Regions from separate parts of the Homo sapiens genome. Here region 2 is linked to region 1. The links come from fine-mapping of genetic effects on gene expression. Tissue or cell type: whole blood. Region 1 holds a variant in brackets; the other region holds the start of a gene. All regions are shown on one strand. Distances are between the middles of the regions.

Region 1 (8,105 bases):
TGTGTGTGTGTGTGTGTGTGTGTGTGTGTGTGTGTGTGTGTGTGTGTGTGTTTATTAGAGGTAGGATTTCACCATGTTGGCCAGGCTGGTCTAGAACTCCTGACCTCAAATGATCCACCCACCTCGGCTTCCCAAAGTGCTGGGATTACAGGCGTGAGCCACCACACCCAGACATACTTACTTTTTTTTTTTTAAAAGAGATAGAATCTTGCTTTGTCACCCTGGCTGGAGTGCAGTGATATGATCATAGCTCACTGTAACCTCTAACTCCTGGTCTCAAGTGATCCTCTTGCCTCAGCCTCTCAAGTAGCTGGGACTACAGGGATGCACCACCACGCCTGGGTAATTTATTTTATTTTAGTTTTTGTAGAGATAGGATCTATCTGTATTGCCCAGGCTGGTCTTGAACTCCTGGCCTCAAGTGATCCTCCTGCCTTGTGCTGGGATTACAGGCATAAGCCACTGTGCCCAGCTGTACAACATCATTCTTGATGGCTGCATAGTGCTCTAGTGAATAGATGTATTGTAAGATATTTAACCTATTTTGGGTGTTTCCAGGATTTTGCTAAGATGAATGAGACCAAGATGAACATTCTTCCAGCAAAATCATTGCATCCATGATTATTTCCTTGGAATAAATTTCTAGATGTACAGTTTTGAAATTTGACACTAAAGGAGTACAAACATGCCAACCCCCAAATATACTGTCCTGGCATATTGACTGTTTTGAGTTAAAGGCACTTAAAAAACAGGGGGTACTCTTAGAAGATCCCTCTGACCTTCCTTTTGTTTCTTAAAAGCAGGAGATGAAATTGTCATGTGAAAGATATCTTCCTTATACCAGAAAAAAAGAATCATTCTTGTCATCAAGAATAGGAAGTCGAGGCAGGGGAAATCTGTACTTGGTAGACTAATTCTTATCTTCCTAGTCACTCCTCTACCCAAGTAACTACCCTAGCCCAAGCCCCTTTGTCTTGTTACATTTTACTACTGTTTGCCCAATTTAGTATATAAATGTTCAACTATGTGTCTTTGAGTCTTCATTTCCTTATGAGTGCCCCTGGGTCATGTAAACTTGTATTGAATGAAGTTGTATGCTTTGCTCCTCTTGATTTTCTCTTATTATGTCATTTAATTTGCAAGCTCAGTTGATAAGCCCTAAGGAAGGTAGAGGTAAAATTTTACTCCTCTACATCACATTATGCTGCACTTAATTTAACAGTGTAAGAGCATCAGTGCAACGTGGGTCATTTGTGATGCTACCCATAAGATGTCCTGGGGCCTTCTCCTATATCAGCAGTACTGCAGTGGCCTCTCCTTGGTTTAGGAAGGACACCTTCCAGTGTGATCACTGGAAGCTTGGGGGACCACTGTGTACAACACATAGTATAAGCTCAGTCATTATTTGCCAAATGAACAAATAAATGAATATAGACTCAGTATGACTACTGGTCCACAAATGCAGATATTCAAGAATACAACATTTCTGTGTACTCCTCAAGTCAACGTGGATTAATCCCACCTGTGAAAGTGGTGGGAAGTTAAATTTCAGTAATTACTGAGTCTCTCTGACAGTGTTCCACCTGCCCCAGGTCATTCAATGTTCTTAAAGCCTTAAGCACTAAAGACTCATCTGGGATTTGCTGCCAGTCCCCTGCCCCACTGGTCACTCTGCGACCTCTGTGTCTCAGCTTGAACAGTCCCTTTCGGCTCCTGCTCCTGCTGCATCCATGCCACACTTGGGGCAAGGGACTCTTGGGAAAACTTGAGGCCCTTAGTGCCTGGAGTTCAGCACCCTTAGGTGTACCAATAGCCATCTGTCTCTTTAGATCTTTCCAGAAAGAGATGCATGGCTCCCCATTGCAGGCTAGGGGATTCTCTCTTTGAAACCAGACCAATTGTTCCATGGAACTGATGTTTATGGTTTCTTTGGAATAAACATAGGAATGGACCCTCCCAGTCTTAAAACATGAGGAATTTACATTTGTCTTATTCAAGTTCCTTTCTCAGGAAACCAACCATCAAGCCTCCCAGACAGTATCAAAGAACTGAAACTTACCAGATCACCACGTCTGGACAGTGAGATCTCTCACCAGTCATGATTGCCTCACAGACCACCTGCTGTCTGTTGACCAACTCTTTTTTACTCTCCCTAATTCCTGTTTTCCCACACATAGTTACATTCCTTCCTTGCTATATAAACTCCTAATTTTAGTTGATTGAAGAGACAGATTTGAGACTGACCTCCCATTCTCCTTGGCCACAGCACCCAAATCAAGCATTCTGCTCTGGTAATACTTGTAGTCTCAGTGATTGGCTTTCTGTGCAGCAAGGAATGGGACACCTGGCATTCTGTGCAGCAAGCAATGGGATGCCTGGCATTTCAGTAACATCTTCTGCCCCTGGAGCTGTACCCCACAGGCTTAAGGAAATTGGTCACGGGCTGAGCATGGTGGTAATCCCAACACTTTGGGAGGCCAAGGCGGATGGATCACTTGAGGTCAGGAGTTCGAGACCAGCCTGGCCAATGTGGTGAAACCCCATCTCTACTAAAAATACAAAAATTAGCCGGGTGTGGTGGTGCATCCTGTAATCCCAGCTACTCGGGAGGCTGAGGCAGGAGAATTGCTAGAACCCAGGAGGCGGAGGTTGCAGTGAGCCAAGATCGTGCCACTGCTCTCCAGTCTGGGTGACAGAGCAAGACTCCATCTCAAAAAAAAGAAAAGAAAAGAAAAGAAAAGAAAAGAAAAGAAATTGGTCACTGACCAGAAACCTTGAGCTTGACTTACAGGATGGTAGATAAGGAAACAGCTTGATACAATCCCCTCCAGTTGCAACAATAACTGGCTCACTGGCTGAAACTGGAACCAATATGGCTGACTAGAGTCTTCCCAGAATAGACTTACTTGCCCAGTGGGTGACTTTTGACATCACAGCCAAAATTTCCACTGCATATTTCATACCAACTCACCCTGAATTTGCGTGTGTGACTCATGAAGAAGCTTGAAGACACAACTATACACGTTCAAGGGCCTTTCCAAAATTCCTCTCCTTTGCTGCCAATCACTAACCACCCCAAAGCTCCTCCTCAGAATCTCTCCCTTAAATATACTGCTTCAAGGCTGGTCTTGCAATGTACCTTTCTCTACAGAAATATCTGCAAAAATGCTCCAGGGTGTGGCTTTCCATTGTGCATGAGCAAACAGACTCAGTTTGGTTCAGCAACACCCCTTGCTACTCTTGTTCCCCTCTTCATGTAGAACACATCTCTTTATTACATTTATCCCATTTCCCCTTACCCTACTGCCACCAGCAACGAAGGAGACATGGACTTGAAGCTCTTTAGCTTTCTGTGCTGCGAAATCTCAAAGGCAAGCAATTCTAAAGGGTCTGGCTACCCACTTAAAATCAGAGCAGGGACGAATCTATGGGAGAGCAAGACCAAACTATAATCTCAAATGATTGTGCTGCAAATGGATTCATAAAATGTTAAAGAGGGCGGTAATGCCTCAGAAAAGAGAATCCTCATTGTGGTGATTGAGCTGGCTTTAGGATGCCCACGGTAGTGATACATCTCACCGTGGAGAAGGGAGAGGTGGGGCTCTTTGGTCATTTAGGTCACTTCTGCACTGTGGTAACACGTTTACATGCCACAAATGCATGGTTAGGCAAAAAGGTGTTTTTTCTTGTTTAATTTTTCTTTTCTATTTCTCTCTCCTCTGGGATTGGTATTTTCCAACATTAAGCAGATTAATGTGCATGTGTTGCAGATTTCATGTGGCTTAGAGTTGTGTGGTATAGGGGAGGCAGAATTTTACCCCTACCTTTTTAAGGTTTTTCAGCTGGGCCTGAGAATTAAAGTGACATAAGACAGATCCACAGGATAAAAGAATACTAGTATATTTAGTACAAGTTTTCCATGGCATGGGGGCCTTCATAAAGAATTGAAGACCCAAAGACACAGCTAGAGTCGAACACTTACATACTGAATTAGACAGAATAGTAGAATTGTGAAAAAGTAACTAAATTCAGTGGGGAGGCTAAAAAAGGTAAGTTATTTTAACAAGGTCTGTACAGAATTCTCTCCACTAAAGCTTCCATTCTTGATAATAAGACTGTTACTTTCCTTGTAGTATAGGGAAAGTATACTTTCCCTATACTGTGGGAAAGAAAGCATCTTTCACATGGCAGTTTCATCTCCTGCTTTTAAGAAACAGAAGGAATGTCAGAATGATCTTCTTGCACCTGCTGTTTTTCAAATGCCTTTAACTCAAAATAGTCAATATGCCAGGGCAGCATATTTTGGGGAAGGCATGTTCTTATCTCCTTCAGTGGGAATGAGACAGTTGGAAACATTGTATGATTTGGAGAGGAAGCCCTGCATTTTCAGAGGCCTTTGTTTTGGGTGTGCCTTAACTGCACCTGCATTTCTTGCCGTTTCTTACAAAGAAACTTCCTTTTGAGAATCAAAATATTTCAGCTGAAGTTATTTTCAACCACAGGGAAATGTTTGAAATGTCAGCCTTTGTTAGCCCAAAGAATATTGTTTCATGAACAGTGATCGAAATAGTCATTTCCTTTGGGAAGCCTCTGCCATTGAAACAAACTTTGATTTTGGAAGCAAAATTTTGGCTTTAAAGATGTCATCCAAGTGTTACAACTTTTTCTAATAGCTCCCTGGCCATGTATTGTAGAGCTATGATAGGTTGTTTGGGTTTGAACAAGAAAACATGTTCTGGCTAGGTTGGGCAGTGTTA[A/G]GAGGAGGGACAGTATAGTGGTGGGGAGCAAATCCCTTACAGCCGGGCTGCCTGGATTTGCAATCCTCGTCATGCCACTGCAAGCTGACTCTTCGGCAAGTTATGTAACTGTTCTGGTCTCAGTTCCTGCATCTATAAAATAGGGGTGATGGTAGTATTTACTGCCTATGATTGTTATAATTATTAATTAGTGTATTAAAAAGCACTTAGAGGCTAGCACAGAGGCTAGGCGTTATAATTATTAATTAGTGTATTAAAAAGCACTTAGAGGCTAGCACAGAGGCTAGGCATGGTGGCTCATGCCTGTAATCCCAAAACTTTGGGAGGTGAAGGCAGGAGAATTGCTTGAGGTCAGGAATTTGAGACCAGCCTGGGCAACATGGTGAGACTAAGTCTCTACAAAAAATACAAAACTTAGCCAGATATGGTGCTGCACACCTGTAATCCCAGCTACTCAGGAGGCTAAGGTGGGAGGATCGTTTGAACCCGGGAGGATAAGGCTGCAGTGAGTCGTAATTGTGCCGCTGCACGCCAGCCTGGATAACAGAGTAAGACCGTGTCTCAAAACAAAACAACAACAACAACAAAACAACAAAAAAACAAAAAAAAGCACTTAGAGATGGCTAAATGCTAATCCAATAAGGGCTGTAGTTTAGTTAATAGTATTGCATTCATGTACATTTCCTGGTTAGATACAGGAGTGCTGGGAAGGGAAGGGTGTAGTTCTTTTAAATGATAGGGAAGGGAGAAGGGAAGTGCTGGGTAGAGGAGGGCGTGGTCTCTGGCTAGGGCTCCACCCCCACCGACCTAGGTGAGGACAGGAATTTACTGCCCAAATGTTGCATTTTCCAAGACCACCCTGGCCTGCCATGCCCCCATCCTGTGCCTATAAAAACCCGAGACCCTAGCAAGGCAGAAACAGCAGCAGCTGGAAGTCAAGAGGAGTGCTCTGTGGAGGAACACACCCACAGGCACCAGCATGCCGGCAGGCCACTGACTGGCAAAACAACGCGGTGTTTGGCTGGGGCAGTCGGAGGAGCGCTCGGGCCGCCAAGCAGACCGACTCCAGGGAAAACCATCTCCCTTCTGGCTCCCCCATCTGCTAAGAGGTACTTCCACTCAGTAAAACCTTCCGCTCATTCTCCAAGCCCACATATGATCCGATTCTTTGGTGCACCAAGGCAAGAACCTGGGGATATAGAAAGCCCTCTGTCCTTGCAATAAGGCAGGGGTCTAATTGAGCTGACTAAAACAAGCCACCTATAGCCGGCCAAACTAAAAGCAAAACTAAAAGAGCACACTGGGCTAGGTGCGGTGGCTCACGCCTGTAATCCCAGCACTTTGGGAGGCCTCATGAGGTCAGGAGTTTCAGACCAGCCTGGCCAAGATGGTGAAACCCCGTCTCTACTAAAAATACAAAAATTAGCCGGGCGCGGTGGCGGGCGCCTGTAATCCCAGCTACTCGGGAGGCTGAGGCAGAAAATTGCTTAAACCCGGGAGGCGGAGGTTGCAGTGAGCCAAGATCACACCGCTGCACTCCAGCCTGGGCAACAAAGCGAGACTCGGTCTCAAAACACACACATACACACACACACACACACACACACACACACAGTAACACGCCCACTAGGGCTTCAGCTGTAAACATTCACCCCTAGACACTGCCATGGGGTCGGAGGCCCATAGCGTGCCTGTCTGTATGCTCCCCTACAGGTTTGAGCAGCAGGGCACTGAAAAAGCAAGCCACATCCCCATCGCACGCCCTGCAAGGGGGACAAGGGAACTTTTCCCATTTCAGTTGTGATGATTGTACTATGAATATGCAGGATGTTACCATTGGAGGAAGCTGGATTAAGGGTACACGGGAACTATATAGTATATCTATGTGCACTTCTACATGAGTCTAAAATTATTTTAAAAATACAAAGTTAAAAAGTACTTAGGGAAACTATATTTGGTAGTATGATTCTTTGAGTAAGGTTTGTCTTTGACAGGAGACTGTGGACTGTAAACTCTCTGAAGTTAAGGACTATTACTGTTTTCCCCAGCACCTAGTACAGTGCATGGCACATAGTTGGTCTTCAATAACTATTTGCTGACTGAAAATGAATAAAGAAGATACTAAGGGTACCGGCCAGCAGAACTTTAAGCAACAAAAGAGAGACAAACCAGTTCCTGCATTAAGGTGGGAGGAAAGAGGTGAGAGGGCCATGCACCAATATTTGGTAAGACCTTCAAAACACATGCACACACACATGCATGCCCGCAAACACATGTACACACACAACATGCACCTGCCCCTGTGCAAATTAGGGAGTGGTTTGAGTGCCACGGATGGGTCAATGGTATGTGTGCCAACAGCAACAACAGCAGGATGGCAAGGTGATTCCTAAAGTGATGTGATTCTGCAGATGCAGCTCAGAGCCAGTGGTGAGCACAAGAATTTGGGATGAATCCATGTTATCTGGATTTTGGGTGGCTTGGTGAACCCAGCTGACAGTTTTAGTAAATAAACCTAGACGATCTTTTTCTGTACTCAAATGTTAAATGTAAGGACAATTGTTTAAACATCGTTCTAGTCTAAGGAAAGCTAGAATGCTACCTAGTTTGCTAGAATATACCCAGAAACAGGGGAAGAGGGTTGATATGGTTTGGCTGTGTCCCCCGCCAAATCTCATCTTAAATTGTAGTTCCCATAATCCCCACGTGTCATGAGAGGGACTTGGTGGGAGATAATTGAATCATGGGGGAACTTATCCTCATGCTGTTCTCGTGATAGTGAGTTCTTACAAGAGCTGATTTATAAGGGGCTTTCCCCCTTTTTGCTTGGCACTTCTTCCTGCCACCATTTGAAGAAAGATGTGTTTGCTTCCCCTTCCATTGTCATTGTAAGTTTCCTGAGGACTCCCCAGCCATCTGAACTGTGAGTCAATTAAACCTCTTTCCTATATAAATTACCCAGTCTGGGGTATGTCTTTATTAGTAGCGAGAGAACGGACTAACACAGGGTCAAATTCAAGAATTAAGCTATGCTGCTGGTAATATCAGGGTCACACCACATATGTGATAAGCCTATCAGAACATCACAGGGTTTAAACTGATACTACCATTTATGATTTGGAAAGGTTCTAGAAATTAAGAGATGCTTTGCTGCATTTGTAACTCTAAGAAATACAAAAGGTTTGGGTGTGAATTAGGTTTCTCTATTATATACAGGGTGTTAAATCAGACTTTGCAAACAATCCTAGGCAAAACTTACAAGGTCTGAAAGCATTTCCCAGAAGCTATTCACAATGCCTGACTTAAATACTCTGTATATAAAATTATAATGTAAAACTGTTGTTCCAA
Region 2 (8,105 bases), 85 kb before region 1:
ACAGAAGTGAAGGATACAAGGATAGGACATCCACCAAGACAAGCGGAAAACAAGAATGTCACAGAAACCGAGGGAAGAGAATCTTACAAGAAGGGGGAAGTTATGCAAAATTACAGAATATTCAAGAAATAATAATGCCTAGGGCGTGTTCTTTCTGCAGGACCCTACTATCCTCAACAAGGAAAGCATCAGGAACAGTGAGGAGGGAGTTTTGGTGGTGTAATGGTGGTGGAAGCTATATCTCAGTGGAATGAGCATGAATAAGAGTGAGGAATTGTAGACAGCAGCTGCAGACAACTCTTGCAAGAAGATTGGCTGTGAGAGGTGGGAACGCAGGGGCTAGCTGGAGGGGACCTGGCACTGAAGGAGGGCTTCTTGACAGGAGTGACTTGAGCATGCTTAAATGTTGATGACAAGGGGTCAGTGAAGGAAAGGAGAGGGGTAGTAGAAGGAACATCATCTCAGAGGAAGGGGGAGGGGGTCCGGAGCATGGTGGAAGTGCCAACTGCTGTGTTGGGAGAAGAGGAAAAGGTGGTTAGAGATGCTGGTCAATGCATTGTTGTGGCAACAGGGAGTAGAGAATTTACACTTGGTGGCTCTATTTTTTTCTCTAAAGTTGATGGGGAGATAATCTCCTAAGAGCAAGAAGGGAGGCAATAGGGCAGAAAGTTTGAGAAGAATAATCATTGTGAGAATGGGAGAGAAAGCTAATTAAAGAGCATAGAATTGCTGGGGAGGGTTGCGAGCAGAAGAGAGGTTGGAGACTAGCACACTAATGGCCTCAATCTTTGGGGTTGGTAATTTTATTCATTGTTGCTCAGCAGCCCAGATGTAAGAGCCAAGAAGAATAGTTTTACTGACCCACGCAGATATAATCTAAGAACAGTGGGCAGGAGAGTTGATGATATTGGGAAGAGTGATTTAAAAGAGGGGTCATGGGAATTCCATGTTGGATAGGGAAAGAAATGATGACTGAGGGAAAGCTTGAGAAGGACAGACTAGAGAAATCAAGGGTCTGATGGAGTTAAAAGAAAAGATGAAGTAGAAGTGGGAGAGGCAGAAAGCCATGAGAAAGCCATGCCATCAGAGTGGGTGTGTGAATTTATGATTTCAGACGGGAAACAGTGCCCAGTAATGACATATCCAAGGTGCAGCCAGGGAAGGGTGTGTCTGAAGCACATGGAAATGAAGGTCATTAAGGAGGTCATGGCAATGAGCTTCCAGGGGTTAGGATGGCTCATCCACACTGGTGACAGGAGGACTAGAGGTAGGGAAGAAGACTGTGAGTCCAGGGCTGAAGTTTCAAGGAATCGAGGAGTGGGCAGGAGGTCAAGGAAAGTCAAGGGTGAGGTTGGGGTAAACATTGATGACTGCCTGATAAATCTCTAATGAACACATGGATGCATGAATCAGTGAATAAGTGAGCAAATGAATGCATTAATTCAGACTAATCTGGCACATTCTGGGAATGCCTAGTCATAAATCTTGAGATTCCCAAAGAAAACACCAGGCTCAGAGAAGGCAGATTACTAGGAGTGTAGAGGCCTCAGGTTATCGTAAGAGTTGAAGATGAGCAAATCTTTTCAGCCTATCCTATCTGAGAAGCTGTTTGCACTCTCCAGAACAGCCCATGTTCAGTACGGTAGCTATTAGCTCCTTGCAGTATTCAGAACCTGAAATACGGCTAGTCCAAATTCAGATGTGATGTCCAAGTAAAATACACACTGGATTTTGAAGACTTAGTACAAAAAAAGAACATAAAATATCTCATCTTGAACTATTGATTACAAGTTAAAATACAAAATTTTTGGATCTATGGGGTAAAATAAAATATTATTAATTAATTTCACTTGCTTTATCAATTGATTTATTTTTACTTTTTACATGAGGCTACTAGAAAATTTTAAATTGCATATGTGGTTCACAACATATTTCTTTTGGGCAGCACTGTCCCAGGCGTTGGTCCGTAGCCTCTGTAATCCTGAAGAAAGCACTATGCCGCCCCAATATTTGCACATGTTCAACCAATAAGTTAATAAATGCAGCCACTCTGTTGGAATTCCACATATATTTGTTGTCATAAGTAAAATTTTAGCCCTCAAGGGCTTAAATTTCTTATAGACTGGAAATGTCCCTTTAAGAGAGCATCTTAAGTCTCTCAAAGTATTGCAAAACCTCCCACTTGCTCCATTACATAGGTTCTGCACCCTGGAAACCATGGTAGTGATGGATGCAGGTGCTCATACTTGTCTTCATTGTTAGCACAGCTGGAATGAATTGAGGGAATCGTCTCTCTTCTTGGGATATTTCTGAAACAATGAGGCTGGAGACTGTGCAGATTGCACTTGTAATTTTCCTCTGACTGGGGAAGCCTAAGGCTCCACTCCTTCGGCCAAGTCTCCTTGGAACCTGTAGTTATTGGCTTGCTTAGTAATACTCATTACAATTTGGAGGGCAGGAGCTCTATTTTAGCCAGAAATTGTGGAAGAAGATCCTACATCAGCCACGTCTGGAGCTGCTTTTCTGCCCAAATCCAAAAATGTAATAGTAAACATTGAGAGTTTATACTGGGTCAGGCACAATGAGGAAACTGAGGCCCCAAGAGCTTAGGCAACCTGAGAGATTCCACAGGTAAAAAGTGGCAGAGCCAGGATTTCAACTCAGTTGGTCTAACTCCAAAGCTTGTGATCCTTATATCACCCTACACCTTCCAACACGGCTGATTATGGACCAGGAAACAAAAAGAGGGAAGCCTCACTTAACTGGCCGCAGAAAAAGCCTCTGAAAGAACATAGATCAGTTGGGCTGACACATTGTGCCCACACTGTGCACTGAACAGCCCAGTTGAGACTGGATCCTTTAGCAGAGGTTCCCAAACCGTGCATTGGAATAAGTAAGTGTTTAAGGGCCTCATTCCAGGGCTGCTAAATCAGAACTCTGGGAGTAGGGCCTAGAAATTTGTATTTTGAAAGCATTTTCCCAGTGGAGATAAGGGAACCGTTACCCTTGATTAGGATCTGATTTGGAACTTGGACTTCTGGATAACTCATGGTACAAAATGGAAGGAGGGTACAAGGAGGGTTTTACTTAAGCTACATCAAAGGAGGGGGCCTGACCTCGGGAGCGCCTTTGGTAGATCCACCATTTGTGCACTAATTTCTAAGCAGCTTCCCAACCTTCAGATTGCTGGGCCTCTGTTTCATCTCAAAGGGATAAGTGCTGTTGCCTGAAGGCAGGCAGACATTGCCACCTCTAGAACTAAGGGTAAGTAGTGGGAAGGCCACAATACTAACTCTCTCCTTCTTCCTCCTATTAGCCTTTCAGTGTTATGATGTACCCAGCTGGTCCAGGATCTGGTGACTCCCCAGAAGGCTTCCCTGAACAACCAAGGCTCCAGCCACAAACTGGAAATCGTGCAACTCAGACACTGGGTACTGAAACTGGGTGCATTGTCCAGTCCCTCCTTCAGAGCCTGTTTGGGGTAGAAGATTGGGGGAGGGGGACTGGGGAAGAGAGACTCAAAGAGGTCGCAGGTGGCACAGAAGTGATGGCAGAACTGGCCTTCATTTAGTGACATATGCTTTGTTCAACCAGTCAGTAAAGGCTTATGTGGTGGCTAGTAGTGCTAGCGAATGCAGATTCGGCCGCTTGCAAAACCAACGAGCAAGGTCGTGGTATGGTAGAAGGAGACTGACTTTATTATAAACCAAAGCTAGCAGTGGGGAAAAACGATCCAGGCTTTTGCTTTAATGGAGCTGCTTCACATTTCCAAGCAAAATGCGAGGCTTTAAGAAGTTTTGGCATGGAGGGTATGCAAGGGGTGAGGCAGTGCAGGTCTTCATGACGAGTTCTGATGACTTGTCTTGAGTTACTGCCCATCTGGTGAATGGGCTGGCATCATCTCGGGCTGGGCTGAGTTATAAATTAACTGTAGCCTTGAATCAATCTCCTGGTGGAGATTTCCACAGATGCCTATATTGTTTCAAGATTTAGTCTCTGGAACTTTTAAGCGAACATACAATTAGATATGCTAACAGTGTGTATGGGGGGTGCTGGGGTGTCGGGGGGTGCCTAGTGGTTAACTGAACAAAAATAAAGAAATAGAAGTATATAACAAGAATATAACTTCCAAGCTGGGTACTTGGTTACAATAGGTGCTTGGATTGTATTAGAGATACCTCAAAGTGAGCAAACAACCAGCCAGAACTGGTCCCTGGCCTTGTGGAAGTTTCTCTCTTCTGTCTCTCTCCTCTCTCCCTTCTCTCTCTCCTCTCTTTGTCCTCTCTCCTTTCTTTCTTGACTTCCTTACCAATGGGAAACCCTGTTTTTCTAGATTAGGGAAAAGAAGGCCCGTTTAGAAAGTAGGGAAGGAGACAAAGTCTTACTTCCTGAAGCAAGGTAGGACTCAATTTGTGACCTAGAATCTGAGACAGGGAAGTAGAGGCAGGAAAACGGGGGAAATGGGGGAATAACTCGCTTCCTTTCTGGGTCGAGAAGGGCTAGAAGTCAAGGTTCAGTGGAGCCTTAGAGAAAGTCCAGCTCTTCATTTTACAGGTGAGGAAACTGAGGGGCGGAGAGGCTATAGTGTGGTAACAAGGTGGACACCTAGTCAGCTGCAGAAGTGGGAATAAACTGTGGCCTTTGAATAACACTATGGGGCCTCCAGTGAGGCGCTCAATTTTAATTCGGGACGCCTGGGTGGCAGCCGGGTGCTAGGGGTGGCTAGTTGCCATGGGAACCGGCTCCTCCCACTTCCTGCGTGCGCACCCGTAGACCTGCGCTCCCAATAAAGTTGTTGTTGAAGCGCGGCGGCGGCACCACGTGGGCCGGACCGGGCCGGGGGCGGGGCCGAGCTGAGGGAGGACCTGCTGGCTGCAGTGAGGAGCGGAGGCGGGCGCGGGCGGCCGGCCATGATCGCGTCGTGCTTGTGTTACCTGCTGCTGCCGGCCACGCGCCTCTTCCGCGCCCTCTCAGGTACCGGCCAGGCGTACCGACAGACAGGAGCCCGGCCAGGGCTCGCCTCTGCGGGGCTCCGCGGGCCTGGGGCGGCGTGCGGTTGGCCGGGCCTCACGACTACCGTGCCCCGGGCAGTGCCGAGGTGTAGGGAGGCGGTCCTGAGCCCCTGCCCCGCGGGCCCCTCCTGACCCCACGAGGCCTGGACCTGGCCGACGTCCCTCGTGGGCGGCCCCTCCTCCCGCCTGTTGTCAGATGGCGTCCGGCCGCGGTTAAGGTGGAGAGGAGCTGTGGACGGGCAGGGCCCTTTCCTGGCCCTGGGGGTGCAGAGAAATTGTGGGGTCGGCCAAGTCAGCACCCCGGCGGGTCGGGAAGGGGTAGTAGCTCGGACCTAGGCGAGTGCCCAAATTCTCAGCGGGCGAGGCGGGTCGGCTCTGGGAGGTTTATGGCCGAAGTACTGGACGCACCGATCTTCCCCAGGTTAACTTCACACTCGCCTTTCACTGCCACCTGGCAGCTCTCGCTCACCGGTGTCTTTGGTTGAAAAACGGACGTTCAATCAGAGACACATTTAGATCTCAGCTTTGGAGCATTCCTGCCCCCACTCCCGGCGGTTTAGAGGGAGATGTGCTGGGGTGGGGGCAATGCCCAGTCGATACCTCAAAGAGGGGGTGTTTATTTCGTTATTGTTTCATAATTTGTCTGCATTCTCTATTTCTGGGCTTTGAAATTACGGAGGGTTTTATGCGACCATCAGTTTCTGAGATCCCATGGAACTCGCAGACTTTTTGCCTTTAATTTATGGGACAGGACCAAGAAGTACTTAGGAATGAGGGCTCCAATTGTATATTCTGTGGTTTTCCTTTGTGGAACTTTACACAATTGGTACGCAATGTGTGTGTCATTGATAATATATATTTCATATAGAAATATTTTAAATTTTACTGTGTATCTGCCATTAGAATGCAAACTTCAGGAGCGCAGGGCCACGTCCATTTTGTTCGCTGTATCTCTGGTGTTAACACATTGCTTGGTATACAGTAGGCACTCAGTGAATTCAGGAATGTCTTGTGTGTCCATACTTCTGAGGAATGTGGGAAACTCCACAGAAGTAATTGTTTCCAGAGAACTAAACATATTCTTTTAACTATGTTGCTGTTTTTCCTGGAGCTCTTCTAATGCCTTAGTGATACAGTATACTAGTCCAGAGGTTTCCAGACCAGTAGAGTTCTAGGGATCTCAGAGGAGGGCCCCCCCCGCCCCCCCACCTACACATTACAGTAGTCCCACTTATATTTACTTGGCATATTTGGTTTCCAGATAAGATTTTTAAAAAACAAAAGCATTCTGCTGCTGAAAATCCACCACCACCACCACCAAAAGACATCTACCAAAATTGAAAGCTAGTAACTTCGTGCATATGAACCAAAGAACCTCTGCCATCTGGTATACACAGAGGATATTTCAAGGGGCAGATAATCAGGAAGTCCTTGAGGCTAAAGCTCAACGACCCAGCCCATACATAGGTTTAGAGCAGGGTTTCTCAATCTCAGCACTGTTGACGTTTTGGACCGGATCATTTGGTGTGGGTCTGTCCTGTGAATTGTTGGAAGTTCAGCAGCGTCTCTGTCCTCTAACCACTAGATGCCAGTAGCAATGCTGCAGTTGTGACAACAACAGTGTCTCTGAACGTTGCTAAATGTCTTCCGAGGGCAAAATCACCGTGGTTAAAACCATTGTTTAGAAGGACATAAATATACATAGACCCCAAACAAGATATTTGAACCGTCTTTCAATATTTGAGCCACTTTTAAGGTTTCTTCCCTTTAAAAAAAAATTGCCAATAAAATGAGTCTAGTGATTGAGGGCCAGCATCGTGCATGTTACTCGTCCTGTGCTGTAAATAAATGGTTGAGTGTGTGAGTGTAGGAGTTGTTTGCTCTCACCAAAATACTGTGCTCAGAGTTTGGGGGCTCTAATTTTAGAGTTTTTCCCACTTTCTTTCTTGCCTGTTGGCTGTCATTGGTGGCTGCAGTATCAGAGAGATGTCAGCTGTCTCTTACTGTCGATTGTTGGCACCTTGTAATTTATAGCCTCTGATGTGTTGTGGAATGGGAAAGCAGATAATGAAGTTTGTGAAGATTTTATTACAATAAGTAGCTTTGAGAAAAGGCTTAAGGGCCCTTGCTAAGATGTAAATTGTATAGATTTTTGAGACTGTCTACTTTAGGACTTTTTCTTTTGGAATACATTAATAGATTAGGGAATTTATACAGCTAGAAAAGCTCAGAGATTATCTAGTTCAAACTTGTCTCTATTTTTTTAAATTTAAAATTTATTTTTTTCTTTTCTTTTCTTTTTTTTTTTGAGATGAGGTCTCACTTTGTCTCCCAGGCGGGAGTGCAGAAGGGCAGTCATAGCTCACTGCAGCGTCAACCTGGGCTCAAGCAATCCTCTCATTTCAGCCTCCCAAGTAGCTAGGACCATGGGCATGTGCCACCGTACTTGGCTAATTTTTAATTTTTTGTAGAGATGAAGTTTCGTTATGTTGCCCAGGCTGGTCTCTAACTCCTGGCCTCAAGTGATCCTGCTGCCTCTGTCTCTGCCTCCCAAAGTGCTGGGAGCCACCACGCCTGGCCTCTTGTCCCCATTTTACAGTCAAGAGTAACTTCATCTGACTAGGGGCATTGTTCAAGGTCAGTTTTATTAATTTTGGTGCTAGATCATAACCCACAGTTCTGATTAACAGTCAGTTGCTGGTTGCAATGTAATGTGATTCTTAGAACCAAAGAGTTTGTTAATAGTAGTCTTAACTAAGTCATGTAAAAGGAGTGTGGGTATATGTGCCCATCTGTGTTCTAGATTATGTGAGACAGCTGTTCTTTCATGCACTGAATATTTATCAGATCCCTGCCATATAAATTAGTCAACACTTGTAAAGAACAGTGCCTGGCACATAGTGAATACTTTGCCCTGATGATGATGATGATGTTCAGGCATTAAGGTAGGCAGGCTCAGTGATGGTACAATGATGAGCAAGGTGGATATGGGTCTTGCTTTTATTGGGCTTATGTTTTAGCTGGGAGAATAGTGTGGGTTGGATGACAGTCTTATAACCTGGTATTTTGGCTTTCCTCCTAGATGCTTTCTTC

Evidence for each region. PIP is the estimated chance that this variant, and not a neighbour inherited with it, causes the effect.
Region 2: ANGEL1 starts here. The variant in region 1 is fine-mapped to the expression of ANGEL1 in whole blood (TOPMed, PIP 0.90).

Annotation. Positions count from the first base shown.
Region 1 is chr14:76,724,280-76,732,384 of GRCh38, reverse strand. LOC105370577 (a long non-coding RNA gene) reads left to right here and starts at 5,674. Exons shown (of 2, transcript XR_007064273.1): 1 at 5,674-5,866. The variant A/G (reference allele first, on the strand shown) is at 4,758.
Region 2 is chr14:76,809,633-76,817,737 of GRCh38, reverse strand. It overlaps ANGEL1 (angel homolog 1), which reads left to right and starts at 4,856. Exons shown (of 10, transcript NM_015305.4): 1 at 4,856-4,974; 2 at 8,095-8,105. The coding sequence starts at 4,911. RefSeq lists a silencer at 4,789-5,218 and enhancers at 4,667-5,240, 5,241-5,815.